2 separate regions of the Homo sapiens genome follow, and region 2 is linked to region 1. Evidence: fine-mapped expression QTL. Tissue or cell type: neutrophils. Region 1 holds a variant in brackets; the other region holds the start of a gene. All regions are shown on one strand. Distances are between the middles of the regions.

The links. PIP is the estimated chance that this variant, and not a neighbour inherited with it, causes the effect.
Region 2: it holds the start of TMEM273, and the variant in region 1 is fine-mapped to the expression of TMEM273 in neutrophils (BLUEPRINT, PIP 0.95).

Annotation. Positions count from the first base shown.
Region 1 is chr10:49,102,040-49,110,143 of GRCh38, reverse strand. It overlaps VSTM4 (V-set and transmembrane domain containing 4), which reads left to right. Exons shown (of 8, transcript NM_001031746.5): 2 at 2,149-2,550. Among named protein-coding and RNA genes, the nearest start is that of VSTM4, 9.4 kb to the left of the region's middle. RefSeq lists an enhancer at 638-1,616. The variant G/CTG (reference allele first, on the strand shown) is at 4,931.
Region 2 is chr10:49,183,983-49,192,086 of GRCh38, reverse strand. It overlaps TMEM273 (transmembrane protein 273), which reads left to right and starts at 3,696. Exons shown (of 7, transcript NM_001288740.3): 1 at 3,696-3,793. The coding sequence starts at 3,751. RefSeq lists enhancers at 1,028-1,247, 1,708-1,867.

The DNA of each region.
Region 1 (8,104 bases):
TCCACTGGGAAGCTCTTGAGGGCGGGGTGGGGCTGGACTTCAGTTCTGGAAGCCAGCTGCTGCATCGTTGCTGCTCTCTGTGGCTGCCCAACCCCAGCAGCTGTTGGAGCTGGGTCAGCCAGTGTCCCCCAGCTGCTGCATTCCTCACCAGGGAGCTCCTGCCGTGGGAGCTGTGTGGACTTCACACAGGGCTTCAGCAGTGAGGAAGAAATGTCTTCTGACTAATTTAACATGGCCCATGGGCCAGGTGCCTGCCAGGTGGGCGAGATGCAGGGGGAATTGTGGGGCCAATTCCTCTTCATTTGCCTTGCAGGAGGGGCTTCTGATGACAGCGGGATTGCTACCAGAGTGGGTCCCTCCTTTGGCTACACATTAGTCTGCAGCCCTAAGTATCTCCCGCATCACTGTAGGCATAGAAGACCTCATACCCATCCAGCGGAGAGTCCAGCTGAGCCTTAACCCTTTTTCTTCTGAGCTCACTTCCATATATATCAAAGACTTTGGTGTTTTAATCCCTGGGGACCTGTGAATGGAACGTTATATGACAAAAGGGACTTTATGGGTGTGATGAAGTCAAGGCTCATGGAATTACCCTTGAATATCCTGTGGGCTAGTGCTTGTCTTCTGAGAGATGAGAAAGAAAATTAAGGAAAAATGATCCTGAAATCATCTGTCTTGAGGTGTTCAGTTATTAAATCAATAGTGGAAACTGTATAGGAGGAAGACCTGTTGCCTGGATTTTTACAATGAAGAATAGTTTGTATCTACCATCCCTCCCCCAGCCCACCGCAGGGCCGCCTGCTTGCTGCTCCACAGCCTCCTTGTCAAATGTTCAGATCTTGCTTGATCTGTTTTTCCACTTTCCTCCTTGCTTCCCTGCAGCACTGCCCAGGGGTCAAAGGTTTTGGTGGCTGTGACATCTGGGGCCCAAGCCCTCTTCTGTTACCAGATGGTGGCATTTTGGGACTGAAAGCTGTGCTTTGGGATGACCATGGGGACACCTGCTTGTGTGGGGGGGTGGAGGCGAATGGCTTCCTGGAGTGATACATGGGGCAGTACAGGGGTGGGGACATGGAACCTGGTGAGAAGACAGCCCTGACTTGGCAGAAAGAGGTTCCAGGCATCCTGTGCAAAGCATCTTTTCTCGGGCCCTGCCTGCCAGAGGGCTGTGCTGTGAGCACCGGGCAGCCTGGTCGCACTGGGCAGTCCAGGGTACACCATGAATCGTGGCTCCTGGGAGAAGACTTCAGCAGTCGGCCTCTCTGAGGTCTACTGGTCTGGGTGGTGGAGTGGGCGCTGGGGTGGCTCCATCACAGGTCAGCTCAGGGGCAGAACAGTGGCTGGGAGTGGGCAGCCCTCGGGCTGGTTTTAACTAAGGAACCAAAGGACAGGAAGTTGTGGATGGGGCCTGGAATTCCAAAGTGTCTTTTGGGTTGTTGGGAGAGTCTCTCATCCCTCCTCTTCCTGGGGTTTAATCATTCTTTATTCTTGCTCTTCAACTCTGAGACGATGGATCCTACAAATAGGAAACCAAGCAACCCCTGTTGTCCCAGCTCACATCCGACCTTACTACTCATCTGCCCTGGGTACAGTTGAAATAGCGGAGTCAGGGAAAGGGGCCCAGCTTCCTGGTGGACAGGCCACCAGAGAGAGGGCCCTACCCTGCCCTGCTCCAGGGCGGCTCCCCACCCACAGCACAGCTGACATCAGGCCAGGGACAAAACTGATAAAAGTAGGCCTTGGGGAGGGGCAGGGGCCAGGTGGTGAGGTGTGGGGAGTGGTGGGGGGTTGGATGTGGGCTAGACATTTTTAAGAAATTCCAAAAATCTAAATCTTTTACATGAAATTTGAATTTTAAACGTCAGCAACTAATTACAAAATTTTGAAAAATACTTCTGGGTCAGGAGGTCATTGTTTAGCATCCCACATGGACAGGGTGGTCCCATAGATGAGACAGTGGGGGCCCACAGAGGCTCACCCCCAGAAGAACCCCTCCTCTGGAGAGGTGAGGGGCCGCCTGCTTCTCTGGCCAGGCAGAGCACTAGGATGCCCAGTGCGTGGAGGCATTTCCTGGCTCCTCGACTGTGGACTGCCCACAGGGGGACTTGGGGCCCTCCTCATCCTCTCTTCTCCCCTTTTTCTCTGCAGAGGTCTGTGCGGCCCTCAATGTCACTGTGTCCCCGGGGCCCGTGGTTGACTACCTGGAGGGGGAGAATGCCACTCTCCTCTGCCACGTCTCCCAGAAAAGGCGGAAGGACAGCTTGCTGGCCGTGCGCTGGTTCTTTGCACACTCCTTCGACTCCCAGGAGGCCTTGATGGTGAAGATGACCAAGCTCCGGGTGGTGCAGTACTATGGGAATTTCAGCCGCAGCGCCAAACGGCGGAGGCTGCGCCTGCTGGAGGAGCAGCGGGGGGCGCTCTACAGGCTCTCCGTCTTGACACTGCAGCCCTCCGATCAAGGGCATTACGTCTGCAGAGTCCAGGAAATCAGCAGGCACAGGAACAAGTGGACGGCCTGGTCCAATGGCTCCTCAGCCACGGAAATGAGAGGTGAGGGTCTTGGTCTCCCTGGGTAGAGGTGGTGGTGGGGCAGGCCAGTAGGCCCCCCTTTGCAGCCACCACCCAGGGGCTCCCGGGTTGGCTGTGTTGCACTAGAACATATCTTGTGGGCCTCTGTTGGTCACAGACATGAGTCATGCCATGGGGTGAGGGTAGATCTTTACCTGGACACTGGCTAATGTGCTGTGTAGACACAGAAGTGAGAACAGAAAGGACCAAGTGCCTGCCCCAACATGGCCCAGCCCAATCTCTGGGCAAAGCCTCTTATGTGTCTGAAGTTGGACTGCTGTGTGCTGTCAAAGGTAAACAAAGCTGGACCCTGGTCAAAGGGGTCAGGGCAGATTTTATTCAGCAGTAGCTATTGCAGTAGAGAAGAGAGCCTGGCATGAACTGGACTCAACTCTGATTTGTGCAGACATGACTGGTTGTTTTAAAAGGAGAATGAGTGAGTGGGGGTGAGTGGGGACTCAGTAGAGTCAAAGAAGTGTGAAAATTGCAAAAAGCAGTAGGGAGAGGTTTGGCTTATGTGGAGCCATCTGGGTTTGCTAAGATGCTTATCGAAGTTTGAAGTTTGGTTTCTACCTTCCCACAGAGATGGGGAGATGGGGGTTTTGTCTTCAGGTGTTGGCTGGAACAAGCAGTAAATGCTTTTGGCAGCCTTGAGTTTTCTCAGGCAGGCACTTTCAGGAGGTCATCGTAGGCATAGGCATGTGGCCTTGAGCCATTAGAAACTATGTTAGTGTTTGTTGGAGTCTTTAGGCCAAGACTGAGGCTTAGTCGAGAAGGGGCTCTGAGGAGCCCGGCTGGAGTTTGGCTAAGGAGAGCATGTTTGTCAGTGCTCAGCCTCCCACCCAGGTCTGTGCAGGCTTGATGGCTTTGGCTGGGGGGTGCCGGGCACCCATGGAGGAGGCACGCGTTGGGAGGTTTTGCTGTGAGTCGTCAGGCCTGGGAGCAGGGCAGGCTGGTTGCCCAGTGGAACTGATCCAAACTTAGGCAACAGCTCGCCAAGAAATTCATGAGGAAGTGGGCAGAGGACCAGGGGTAGCCCTCCCTTCCTGAAGACAGATAGGAGGGATGGACAGCATTTCTGCAACATCTCAGCTACCAAGTGCCATATTTTGGGGTTGTCATTTTTTTATCACCAATGTTTCTATTCGGGAAGACACCTCTCACAATTTTAGTAAGACTTCCTATTATGCACTAAATTTTGCCTTTGATTGCTTTGAAATTGAATTTAGTTTGGCACAAGATCAAGAGGATCACAAAGTACAGCTGATAGTCTCAAATACAAAAAAGGGTCTAATTTTATTGTACACATATAACAAAATACTCAAGTCCTTAGTGATGTTGTTTTGACAAGCCTTTTTAAAGGACAAAACTTAGTTGTGAAAAGTATTTTTAATGTCCTATATGAATAAGGGACATAGAGTAAAATAATTTATATACAGAGTCTTTACAGTAGTTCAATTTTACTTGTCTTTGGAGTTTGCTTGTTGTAATGTTTATAAGTACAGAATGAGGTATTAAATAGAATGTGCAATTTTTCTCCTTAAGCAAATTAATTCAAGAAAACCAATGACTATTGGCTTATTATTTTCACATAGAAAACAAGACATCAGATCATCAAGGGCTGGGCCAAGAACCCACTGCAAATACCACTTGGCTGTGAAACACAAGATCTTTTATATATACAAGATATATACATACATATATATATACACACAAGATATATATATATATATACACACACACATATGATACGTGTGTATGTGTGAATTGTGTTGTTTTTGGTGTTTGTGTCACAGTGTATTCTGGAGTCACAGACGAAATATCTTGGCAGTGATGACATTCTGCCAAATAAAGCATATAAAAGCTTTGCTACCTTCAAGTAAGCAGAGTCATTTAGCTTGTTGGTTAACGTGAATCTCATTTCAGTGAGTGAAGCTGGGTTCAGTCTAGAACATTTGTTTGGGAACTTGCTCCAAAAACATGAGGTAGTTTTTAACACCTCACTGGAAATAAGAATCTTTCCCCACTTCTTCTCTTGCTCCCCCACTTTCCTGCCCTGGTCCTCTGGTTTCTCTTCCTTCCCCTCCTCAGCTCCCCTTCCCTTCACTCCCCGCCTCTTTTCTTCTTCGTCTTTCCTCTCTCTCTGTCTGTCACTCTTTCTCTCTCTGCCTCTCCCTCTTTCTCTCTCTTTCTGTCTCTCTCTCTCTCTGTCTCTTGGTATATCTCTCTCTGTCTCTCCCCCCCCCGTCTCTCTCTCTTTCTCTGTCTCTTCCTCCCTCTGTGTCTCTTCGTCTCTCTCTGTCTCTCTGTTTCTGGCTTTCTATCTCTTTCCCTCTCTGTCTCTCTCTCTCTCTCTCTCTCT[G/CTG]TCTCTCTGTCTCTCCCTCTCTCTCTCTGTCTCTTTCTCCTTCTGTCTCTCTCTTTGTCTTTTGGTCTCTCTCTGTCTCTCTCTGTCTTTCCATCTCTCTCTGTCTCTCTCTCCCTCTGTGTCTGTCTCTCTCTGTGTCTCTGTCTCTCCCTCTCTCTCTGTCTCCCTCTGTCTCTCTGGTCTCTCTCCCTCTGTATCTCTCTGTCTCTCTCTCTGTCTCTCTGTGTCTCTGTCTCCCTCTGTGTCTCTCTGTCTCTCTCCCTCTGTGTCTTTCTCTCACTGTTTCTCTGTCTTTCCTTCTCTCTCTCTCTGTGTCTCTCTCTCTCTTTGTATCTCTGTCTCTTTCTCTCTCCGTGTGTGTCTCTGTCCCTCTCTCTCTCTCTGTGTCTCTCTCCCTCTGTATCTCTCTATCTCTCTGTGTGTCTCTCTCTCTGTATCTCTCTATCTCTCTGTGTCTCTCCACTTCTCTCGCCCACTCCCCTCTGACCTCTCACCCAGAAGTGGTTCTACCCTCTCAGCGGAGCTCAGCCTCCCTTGCCATGTCTGCTCCATCTCAGCTCCTGGGCAGGGCCATGATTTGCTGATGGAAAGATTCAAAACCTTAGGAAGCAATGACCATATCTTCTAGAACATTCTATTTAGGCTTCCAGGGGACTGTTCCAAGGCAGTTAAGGAAAAGCAACCCCAAGCAAATGGCCTGAAACCAGGCAGGCTGTTTGGGTTGGAGCTTGTCCGCCCCAGGCTGGGGCTGTGCAGAGCCTTGGCTGCCTGTTCTTCCTGGGCAGGGCCAGGAGAGGCGCATGGCTGCAGCCTCCCAGAGCACCTTTCCCGGTGTCCTGGGCCTTGCTCCTCTCCAACGGCCTTATTTTCCTAAATTTCCACCTCATGTTCATAGTTGTTGTTGTTGTTTTTGAGACAGAGTCTCCTTGCTCTGTCTCCCAGGCTGGAGTGCAGTGGTGTGATCTTGGCTCACTGCAGCCTTTGCCTCCTGGGTTCAAGCAATTCTCCTGTCTCAGTCTCCTGAGTAGCTGGGATTACAGCTATGCGCCACCACACCCAGCTCATTTTTGTATTTTTAGTAGAGGTAGGGTTTCTCCATGTTGGCCAGGCTGGTCTTGAACTTGTGACCTCAGGTGATCCACCCACCTCGGCCTCCCAAAGTGCTGAGATTACAGGTGTGAGCCACCTTAAATGGAAAACAAAAACACAGAACAACAAGGATGAGAAGTTCTGTGGTCCGTACCTTTGGGTTAGAATATCAAACAGGAGCTCTTGGGGGTTTGAGTGCCCCCCACCCCAGGCCCGTGGTCTCTCTTGTCTAACCTGCTCATGTCACCTCCCTCCTTTCAACAGGAGTCTCCAGCCATCCAGTGGAGAGGGGAGCTTTTCTTGGGATTTCCCTTGTAATACTACCTCACTCTTTGCCCTTCACCGCAGACTTAACCATGGCCTCCTTCCTGCAGAGTTCTTGATGTGAGATAAAATTGCTTGTCTTTCACTGGAAACTCCCAGAAAGAAAGGCTGGTGCCTGGTCTCTCCTCATTTCCCTGTCATGAACACCTCGCCCAGCACATGGAGGGTGACTTGCGATGATATATTTAAAAAATAACTCCCAGTTCTGAGAAGAGCCATAGGAGTGTTGGCTCTTATTATCTGTCCTGATTTCCATATGTTGGTTGTTTTCTATTGCAAAAGTAATATAGTGTAATATAGTTCAATTATAGAAAACATGGAAAAATACTGAAAGGGTTTAAAGAAGAAAATAAAAATGACTTACCATATCTCTACTCAACTTAACATTTCAGTGCAAATCCTTCCTGTCATTTTATGCAAATTAAAATTTAAAACCTAATTTCAATCTTACTGTAAAGAGTGTTCTGTGACTCGCTTTTCTGATATTACTAAATAGTGTGCACATTTTCCCTTGTTAAATATGCCTCAAAAACATAATGTTAATGATGGAATAATGTTCCATCATGCAGGTGGACCTCAATTTAGCTTCCTGCTTATTGTTACTGGACATTTGAAGCTGCTGTAAATCTTTGTCAATAAATCTCCATGAATATCCCTGACCTTAGCATAAAATCCTGGAAATAAGATTGCCGGGTCCAAAGATCTACCCAAATTAAAAATGGACACAATTTCAAGAAGTGAATTGACCTCTAAAATAGTTTACAAATTTATATTACCACCAGCATTGAAAATGCCTTTTCCCCACGGATTGGTCTACATAAGAGTGTTGGTTAATTTTATGTGTTGACTTGACTAGGCTAAACGATGCCCAGATAGCAGGTAAAACATTATTTCTGGGTGTGTTCGTTCTGTTTCTCTGGGATCCCAGACTAACACAATCATATACTTTTTGAGGATGATGATGATAACAATGAATGCCTGCAACAGTGCCTGGTACACAGTTGATCCTCAATAGATACTTGATGAATGAATAAAATGTTCTTTGTCAAGTGTCATTAGCAACTGTTGCTGTGGATGACTTTGAAGTAGGCGTGACTTGGTGGATGTAGTCACCCTCTCTGGGATGCCTTACCTCTCTTTCCCTTGACCTATTTCAATCATACATATTTTTTGGGGCTCCACATCCAGCTTTCATCTTCCATCAATGCCTTCTTTGGGCATGCCAGCCCATGGAGTGCTCTCCCACTGGCAACATCTTGTAGCTTCTGTTTTTAGCACTGTAGACACAACATTATGTGGTCATGCCGTTGTTTTTCAAGCTGCTGTGGCACAGTGATGATGTCAAAAATATTATACATAAAAGAGTTGGCCAGGCATGGTGGCTTACGCCTGTAATCCCAGCACTTTGGGAGGCCGAGGTGGGTGGATCACGAAGTCAAGAGTTCAAGACCAGCCTGGCCAACATGGTGAAACCCCATCTCTACAAAAATACAAAAATTAGCCAGGTGTGGTGGTGTGCACCTGTAATCCCAGCTACTCGGGAGGCTGAGATGAAGAATTGCTTAAACCCAGGAGGCAAAGGCTGCAGTGAGCCAAGATCCCGCCACTGCACTCCAGCACTCCGCTCTCAAAAAAAAAAACAAAAAACAAAAAAGAGTCAAACAATGCAAAAACTAAAATGCGCAAATATCTTTCTCCTACCCACTACCTAATATCCCCAGTTCCACTCCCATCCCCAGAGATAATCATTGTCAATAATTT
Region 2 (8,104 bases), 82 kb before region 1:
ATTTTATTTCTATTATCTGAACTAGTTTGTTAATATTGTAATTTCCTAGTCCTTAAAGTTTCTAAAATTTTTGTAAAATTCTGTAAAATAGTTTGGAATGATATTTTCTTTGTGGCAAGATTTTTAACTATTTGATTCAATCTTTTGAAAGGCATCAGGACCTTTCTGTCTTGCTGTTTTTGTCTAGCACATTTCAGTAAGTTACACTTTCCTGAGATTGTGTCCATTTCATCAAAGTTTTCAAATTCATTGGCATAAGATTGCAAATAATGCCATTATTGCTACCTTTTTGGACTTATTTATTCTTAATATTATTTATTTTTGTCTTCTCTCTTTTTAAATCCATTCTGTGAGGAATTTTTCATATTATTAGTTTTTTCAGAAAAAACTTTTAAGATGTGTTTATCCTCCCCATTGTATCTTTGCTTGCTTCTGGTTCATTCATTTTTGCTCTCATATTTATTGCTTCCTTTCTTCTGCCTTTTTTCTGGGCTTATAATTTTTTCAAACTTCTCTGACTGGTTGCTTATCTCATTCCTTTTTCAGTTCTTCTTTTCTAAGTATTTACATCTATGCATTTCCTTTTAATTATTACCCGGCTTGCATTCTGCAAAATCACATGTGCAACATTTTCATTATCATTCAGTTCCAGCTATTTGTAATTTTCACTGTAATTTTTTCTTTGATCTATGAGTTACTTAGAAATGTTTTAAAATTTCCAAACCAATGGAAATTTCTATCATGTATTTTTGTTACTGTCGTTTAATTCAATTACCTTGTGGTAAGAAAATATGGTCTATATGTCACCTTTTCTTTGAAATTTTTGAGACTTGTATTATGGCCCAGTGTGAGACCGTTTTGGGGTATAAATGTTGCATGCATGCTGAATTGAATGGCTATTTTCTAATTGTTGGGTGCACAGTTCTATGTAAGGCCAATAAACAAATCTGCGTGCTGAATCCTCCCTATCTTTAAATTTGTAAAAATCTGATGCGTAATGATGGTGTTTGGCAGTTTTTTGTGACTTGCACTAAAGGCGTTCACATGAGACATGAATTCTACGAGCTCCCTGGCTGGTCCTGAGGGTGCAGTGCTAAGGACAGAAGAGTCCCAGGCTTGGTGGCCTTGGAAGAGGCCCCACATCCGAGTGAGGGGCAGGATGTCAGAGCTGCCGGAGTGGGGCTCATTCTTTTCTGCTTGTCAGTGCAGTGACCTTCCTCACCTAGATGACCTGGAAAATATTCCTGCCAGGTGGGCTGGAGGCTAGGCCGGCTGAGCATGAGATAAGAAAGTGAAACGACTTCTTTTTTTTTTTTTTTTTTGAGACAGAGTTTCACTCTTGTCGCCCAGGCTGGAGTGCAGTGGCGCAATCTCGGCTCACTGCAACCTCTGCCTCCCGGGTTCAGGCGATTCTCCTGCCTCAGCCTCCCAAATAGATGGGGTGAATTGAATTCTTCATTCAACAAACACCGCTAGGAGCCTGCACTGTGTCAGGTGCTAGGCCAGGTGCCCTGGGCCCTGCCCTCACAAGCTCCTGGGCCAGTGTGAGCCAGTGCCAGGAGCAGCCTCACGGTCAGAACTGGGCGTTCATTACAGGGGTACAGGGTGGGGCATCCGCTCTTCTGGGTGCATTGTGCCACGCCAACAAGACACACACCATCTTGCCAAGGTGCCGTGGCTGGGTGCCAGGGCATCTCGTGAGATTCTAGTTTACGGGGCGTTTTGAGCCTCTGCCTGTCTAAGCAGGGAGCAGACTGCATTTTCCAGACTCGGAGGCTACGGCAGAGTGAAAGCAGAAGTAGCTGCAGATGCTTCCCCTCCTGGGAGTATGTAGGACAGGTCGAGCTCCCAAGGATGTTTGGAGAGGTGTTTGGGAGCAGAAGTTCATGCTGGTGTTTAGGTTGACTCATCCCATGCGAAAGTATTTTGAAATCAGTTGCCGACATTTGAAACTTATTGATTTCATATAAAAACAGAACTGCCTGGTGTGGCTGGAAGCCCTGGGCCTGGCCTGAATGTAGCTCCACCGTCCCCAGCCACTGTCTACAGATTGTCAGGTCTGCACTGGCATTTTCTTTCAATACACTTAGAGGAAAGTGAAATATTTTTCTTACACATGTTCCCATGAACTGGGGCAAAATTAAGAAAACTCCACATATTCCAGGAGAAATAAGAGAGTATGTTTCTTGGTGCAGGTAGAAACTGATCTTAATTTCATCAAATGAATAAAGTGTGGACAGATGGAACTTGAAGGCACCCAGATGAAGCCAATTGCTTCTCTCATGACCAGCCTTCTCCTCTCATGTCCATTATTTATGTGAAACTCAGAAGGAGCCACAGCAGCCATGCAGAAGAACCCAGGGGGCATCTGTGGCACCAGGGCAATCGGACTGCCTCTGGCTGGACCTTGGCAGGGGATGGTACCTGTACACAGAGGGCACATGCAGCCTGAGGGGCATAGGCTGCCAGCCAAAGGCCTGGGTTTCGAGTCCAGCTCTCACATTTACTGCTGCGTGGACTTGGACAGGTTGCATGCTAAGATGGCATTGGGCTCAGTAGCAAGTGCTCACGGTGTTGGCTGCTACCGTTAGGGATTTGACTGAGGGAGCCCAAGAATGAAAAGAGCTCGATTTCTGCCAGCTCAGTTGGGTGGGGGACTCAAGACTTGTCATTAAGTTGATTTATATTTTAAAAAGTGACATTTCCTGCACATTTGGGTTTTTGGCTGAACATCTAAGCATTGTGACAACGTGCAGGTATAAAGGAGTACAGGAGCATAAGGCCTTCAGCCTGCTGGCTGAGCCTGTGTGACTACCAAAGTTCCTCCAGGCTAAGGACCTGGACATGGGGCCTGTAAACTTGGATGGGAAAAAAATTACATCTCTGTTCTCTAACCTCTAAGGAACACTTAGCATCTTCTTCTAATAGTAGTGTGGCAAACGAACCACAGAAACATTACCACCCAGTAACTTTATTTCTGGTAGGAATCACAGGTCTTTCCATCCACATTCCAGCTGTTACAGGTATCTCTCAATATCGATTCCATTTATCACCATGTCGAGATGGTGGTAGCTGTTTCATCTGCTGCCAGATCTTGCTATTTACTGTGTGGATAAATAAGCATGTATATTTCTACTTCACAAGTTTAACAAAATATTTTGATAACTGTGTGTTAATACTACTGATTTCTACTATGATCCTTATCTATTTTAGTTTGGGGATTTAAAAATCTTATTCTGAGAAGAGAGTGATAGGCATTCCTAGACTCAGAGGCTCCCATGGCACAAAAACAGTGACCGAGCTGGACTATTGGCTGGAGGGGCATTTCCTATTTCTGCTCCAAGGCAGAGGCTACTGCAAGGGCTGGACTGCAGGGCAGACCGGCTTTGCCCACATTCCTCTCTGAGACTTACTAGCATGGGTCATTAGGCAAGAAACCGCACCTTACCGAGCTTTGTTCCCACACTCTGTGGGGAAGATTATAGGAGAGAACACTGGGTATAATACCCCAGCATGTACAATGGGTCTAATCACAGCCAGCTTCTGGTGGAGTCCAGAATGACAGGGGCTTCCTTCAGCCCTGTCTTCAGAGAGGCTGAGAGGAACTGAACAGCCTCCTGGCTGTGACAGTGGTTTCCTTCCCCATCAGTCACGTGGGTCTTGTCCTGTCCCCAGAGCCTTGGGTCACATGGCTCATTGTGCCTGCGCTGCCAGCAGCCAGGAGCCAGGAGCCAAGAGCAGAGCGCCAGCATGAACTTGGGGGTCAGCATGCTGAGGATCCTCTTCCTCCTGGGTAAGTGGGGACTGCGGGGGTCTCTGGCCCGGGGGAGCCTCAGTGGGCAGGAAACTGGGGGAGCCTTAGCCCACTGGGGCTTGATCCCTAAAACATAACTCTGTCCCTTTACACAGATGATGTTTCTCACTTTGATCTGGTAGTGAGCAATGATCTTGTTTGTCTCATTCCAGCTGCAACTTACAAATGCTTCTGGGCTAAAGGAGAATAGGAAGGGTCATGGCAGAAGGAGCTTCGGGCTTGGGATCTAGAAACATCTGGGTGTAAACTGTGGCTCCATTGCTGATAAACTAGAATAAGCTTCTGAAACTCCCTAACTTTCTGAACCAATGAGATGGGAGATAATCATGTTTACTTTTTGGGATTTCAAGAGAGTTAAGTTAAATTTAATTAAGTCAAATCAAAATACTGACATAGAATGAGAACATGTAGGCATGTAGATACTGGTATACATTTAATGTTGAATCAGAATTCTCATGCAGTGAAGCAGACTCTTTGCTACTCAGAGGTATCTTTGTTTTTAAAAATTATCTTTAATGCATTCCTTGAAAGAAGGAAGAAAGGAGAGAGGCAAAGACTAAAACAAAGTAGGGCCAAATGGAGGAGAGAAATATAAAGTCAGAGAAGTAGACAGAGAGGAAGAAACTCAAAGAGAGAGAGAGAGAGACAGACAGAGACATAGAGAGATGGTTAGAAATATGCATAGATGGAGACAGAGATGGAGAGAGACACATGCCTTTACGAAGTCCCCTCTGATATCAACTGTTGTTTCCTAAAAAGGCAGCATACGTCCCTCATATATACAAAGACGTTCCTTCCCAGAACTTGCACTGGGCCGAGACTCAATGGGAAGCAGTCTGTCTCCAGATTAAATCTTGTGTCTCCAGACCAATAGGTTGTATCCTGAATGCGGGCAAAGTTAGTGCTGTGGGCAGGTTTCCATCTAAAGTCTGCACTAAGCAGGGGAGAGCAAAGACTTTGGCCTTGGGAGTCAGCATGTCAGACAGACAGCCAGCCACATCATCCATCAGTTTACACATGGAAACGGGCCGTTGGCAGTGACTGTGAAGGGATGTCAGGCACCAGCAAGCAGCGATTAAGGGTGTGCACGGTGGTTAGATGCAGTGTGCCTGCCCAGAGACGTGGTGGAAGGTAAGAGAAGTTGTAACCCTTATTTCTGCTTTTGACTTACCTAGATAAACAAACTAGTCTGTCCTGGTACAAAAAAAGGAAGTTAAATTTAAGAAATCCAATGAAAAATGTGCAAATTATATAAACAGGCAATTCATTGAAGAATCACAGACAATAAAACTTTAAAATGTCCAGTCTCACAAATAATAAAAGATCTAACACCTCCTCGCATTTTTTAGTGTGTCGATGTGCTGGGTGCTCTGCTGAAGATGTTACATGAGCTCATTTGGTTCCCACAGCAACTCTGTGCAATAGGTGCCACAATTACCTGCATGTTATAGATAAGGTTTTAATCACTGGGCCAAGGCATCACAGCTCGTTTCTGCTTTCATATACTATTGATAGAGGTACACAGTGGTTAGGAGTGGGTATCCAGTACGAGACTCCTTAAATGTTCATCCCTGTTCTGTTGTTTACCAGCCTGGAAAACTTGGACAAAGAATTAATCCTCTCTGTGCCCAGTTTTCTCATCTGTAAGTTGGGGACACCTCACAGGACTATTGGGAAAATGAAATCTGTTACCACATTTAAAGCACTTAGCATGGGATGTGATAAGTGGTGAGCACTCACTATTGGATATGAGGGGACTCATTTATTCACTCTCTCCAGAGGGCAATTTGGCAAAATCTGGGTGTCAATGTAAGCGAAATGTAAGATGTTCATAACCCTTCACCCAGAAATTCCACCTCCAGGAATATAACCTGATGAAATAATATGGTAAAACCCTCCCAAAATATTTCACAGGGTATTATTCAACACTGCCGAAACCACGGTGGGAACCAGAAACAAGAGACTATCAGTAGGAATTTGACTAAGTTAATTATGCTTTAGTATTTCCAACAATATCCAATATATTTAGTTGAAAGACATGCCTTTCTATGAGCTGACACGGATGAAACAGAAGTGATGAAGTGATAGTTACAGGTTAGAGTTCCGTAGTAATATTTTGCATGTGTTTAGTCTCCTTCTTCTTCCTCTTTTTCTTCTTCTTCCTCTTCTTCTTCTTCTTCTTCTTCTTCTTCTTCTTCTTCTTCCTCTTCTTCTTCTTCCTCTTCTTCTTCTTCTTTTTCTTCTTCTTCTTCTTCCTCCTCCTCCTCCTCTTCCTCCTCCTCCTTCTTCTTCTTGAGATGGAATTTTGCTCTTGTTGCCCAGGCTGGAGTGCAATGGCGCGATCTCGGCTCACCGCAACCTCCACCTCCTGGGTTCAAGCAATTCACCTGCCTCAGCCTCCCGAGTAGCTGGGATTACAGGCACATGCCCCCGCACCTGGCTAATTTTGTATTTTTAGTAGAGATGCGGCTTCTCCATGTTGGCCAAGCTGGTCTTGAACTCCTGACCTCAGGTGTTCCGCCCACCTCGGCCTCCAAAAGTGCTGGGATTACAGGCGTGAGCCACCGTGCCCGGCTATCCTTTATCTTCTTAGGAAAAAGAATTATACAGCATCTTAATTTCTCTGTATTGGCATTTTTCATAATGATTGTATATGTTGTTAATTCCAGTAAGTAAATGTTTGTGAACAAAAAGCGAATATGACAGCCTGTTGAAAGCAAATGAAGGAAACGTTGGGCTTCCCCTTTATTGACTGGAGAAAGGGGCCTAGAGCACTGTTTAGTGCAATCTACTGGCAGATGGGGGTCTGTGAGGGTGGGTGACCAGGCCAGTCACCCAGGGTGTATGAGAACTGTACCTCAGGGGACTTGGGGGCTATGGGGGCACTCTCTGTCCAGTCCCTCTGTGGCATCCAGGATCCCAAGTATGACCGGGGGACCCTGGGATGAGAAGCCAGGCCAGTCTTTCCCACACACAGAGTAGGTAGAAAGTTTTTAAAGAAACAGTATTTGAATATTCTTTAAATATTTTCAAACACTGAGATTAATGGAACAGACATTTATGGAGCCAACACTCTGAATTACCAAATGTTAAATTTTTTTCTAGATATATATTTAAAGGTAGGTAGCTAAATCAATGTATCCATCAGAGAAACAGAACATAAGAGGTGGAGTTTGGCTCTCTTCCTCCTCTTGTTTTCCTCCCTCCCCAGAGGGAGAGGCACCCCAGGGTTGGCTGTGCTTCCTTCCTGGGTTACTTTGCAGCTGTTAAAAACTGCAGGAATCCGCCATAGCATACTGAACACGTTGCATTATCTACCCGTTCTGATAATATGGGTCAAATGCATTCATCCCAACTACTCTACAAGTTTCCACAGAAACACTGCCATTTATCTGATTATTTATCCATTCCCATACTGTCAGAATTTAGGTTGTCTCTAACTTGCAGCCTGATGGCTGAGGCTTCGATGAGCCCTCTCGCCCCACCTCCTGGAACCCACCTGCAGCTGGTTTTCTAGCAGACACCCCTGGCAGGGGAAATGTCGTGTCAATTCTCCTTTTGTTGGATATTGCCAAATTGCTCTCCACCAGGGGGTTGTGGCCATATCTGTTCCTTACATACTCAGTAATACTTGATACTGCCCAACTTCTCAATTCTTGACAATTAGAGAGGTATAAAATTTTATCTCAAAGTTTTTATTTTAGTTTGTGTGTTCCTAATCACTACTAGGAATAACTACTTTCTCTGCATTATCAGACAGCCCATTCTCCTTTTCTGTAGATTTCTGATTTTATATACCTTTCTCCCAAGTTGTATTTGATTATTGGTCTTTTATGTAGTATTCTGGATATTAATTATTTGTATGTTTCATGTGTTCCAAATATCTTCTCTCAGTATGTTGCTTATCTTTTATCTTTGTGGCTTCCTTTGTTGTGAGAAGTCTTTCAGCGTGATGTAATCACATTTATTGGTCTTTTCCTTTTTGTGTGCTTGGTTTTTCTGTGTTAAGAAGCATTTTAAAAAGTTATTTTTACTTTAAAGTGGTTGCATTTTTTATGATTAGGTCTTTAATTTATTTGGAATTTATTTTTATTTACGGCCTAAAGAAAGGATCTAATTTTAATGTTTTCTGTATGGGACATCAGTTGTTGCAATATCACCTGTGTAATGATCTTTCCTTTCTTTGCTTTGCAATGATTCTATATTGCAAACATATTCTATGTCTATTCTGTACCCATTTAATATGTCTGAACCATTAATGGGCTTCATCTTCTGTGCCACTTTTTGCAT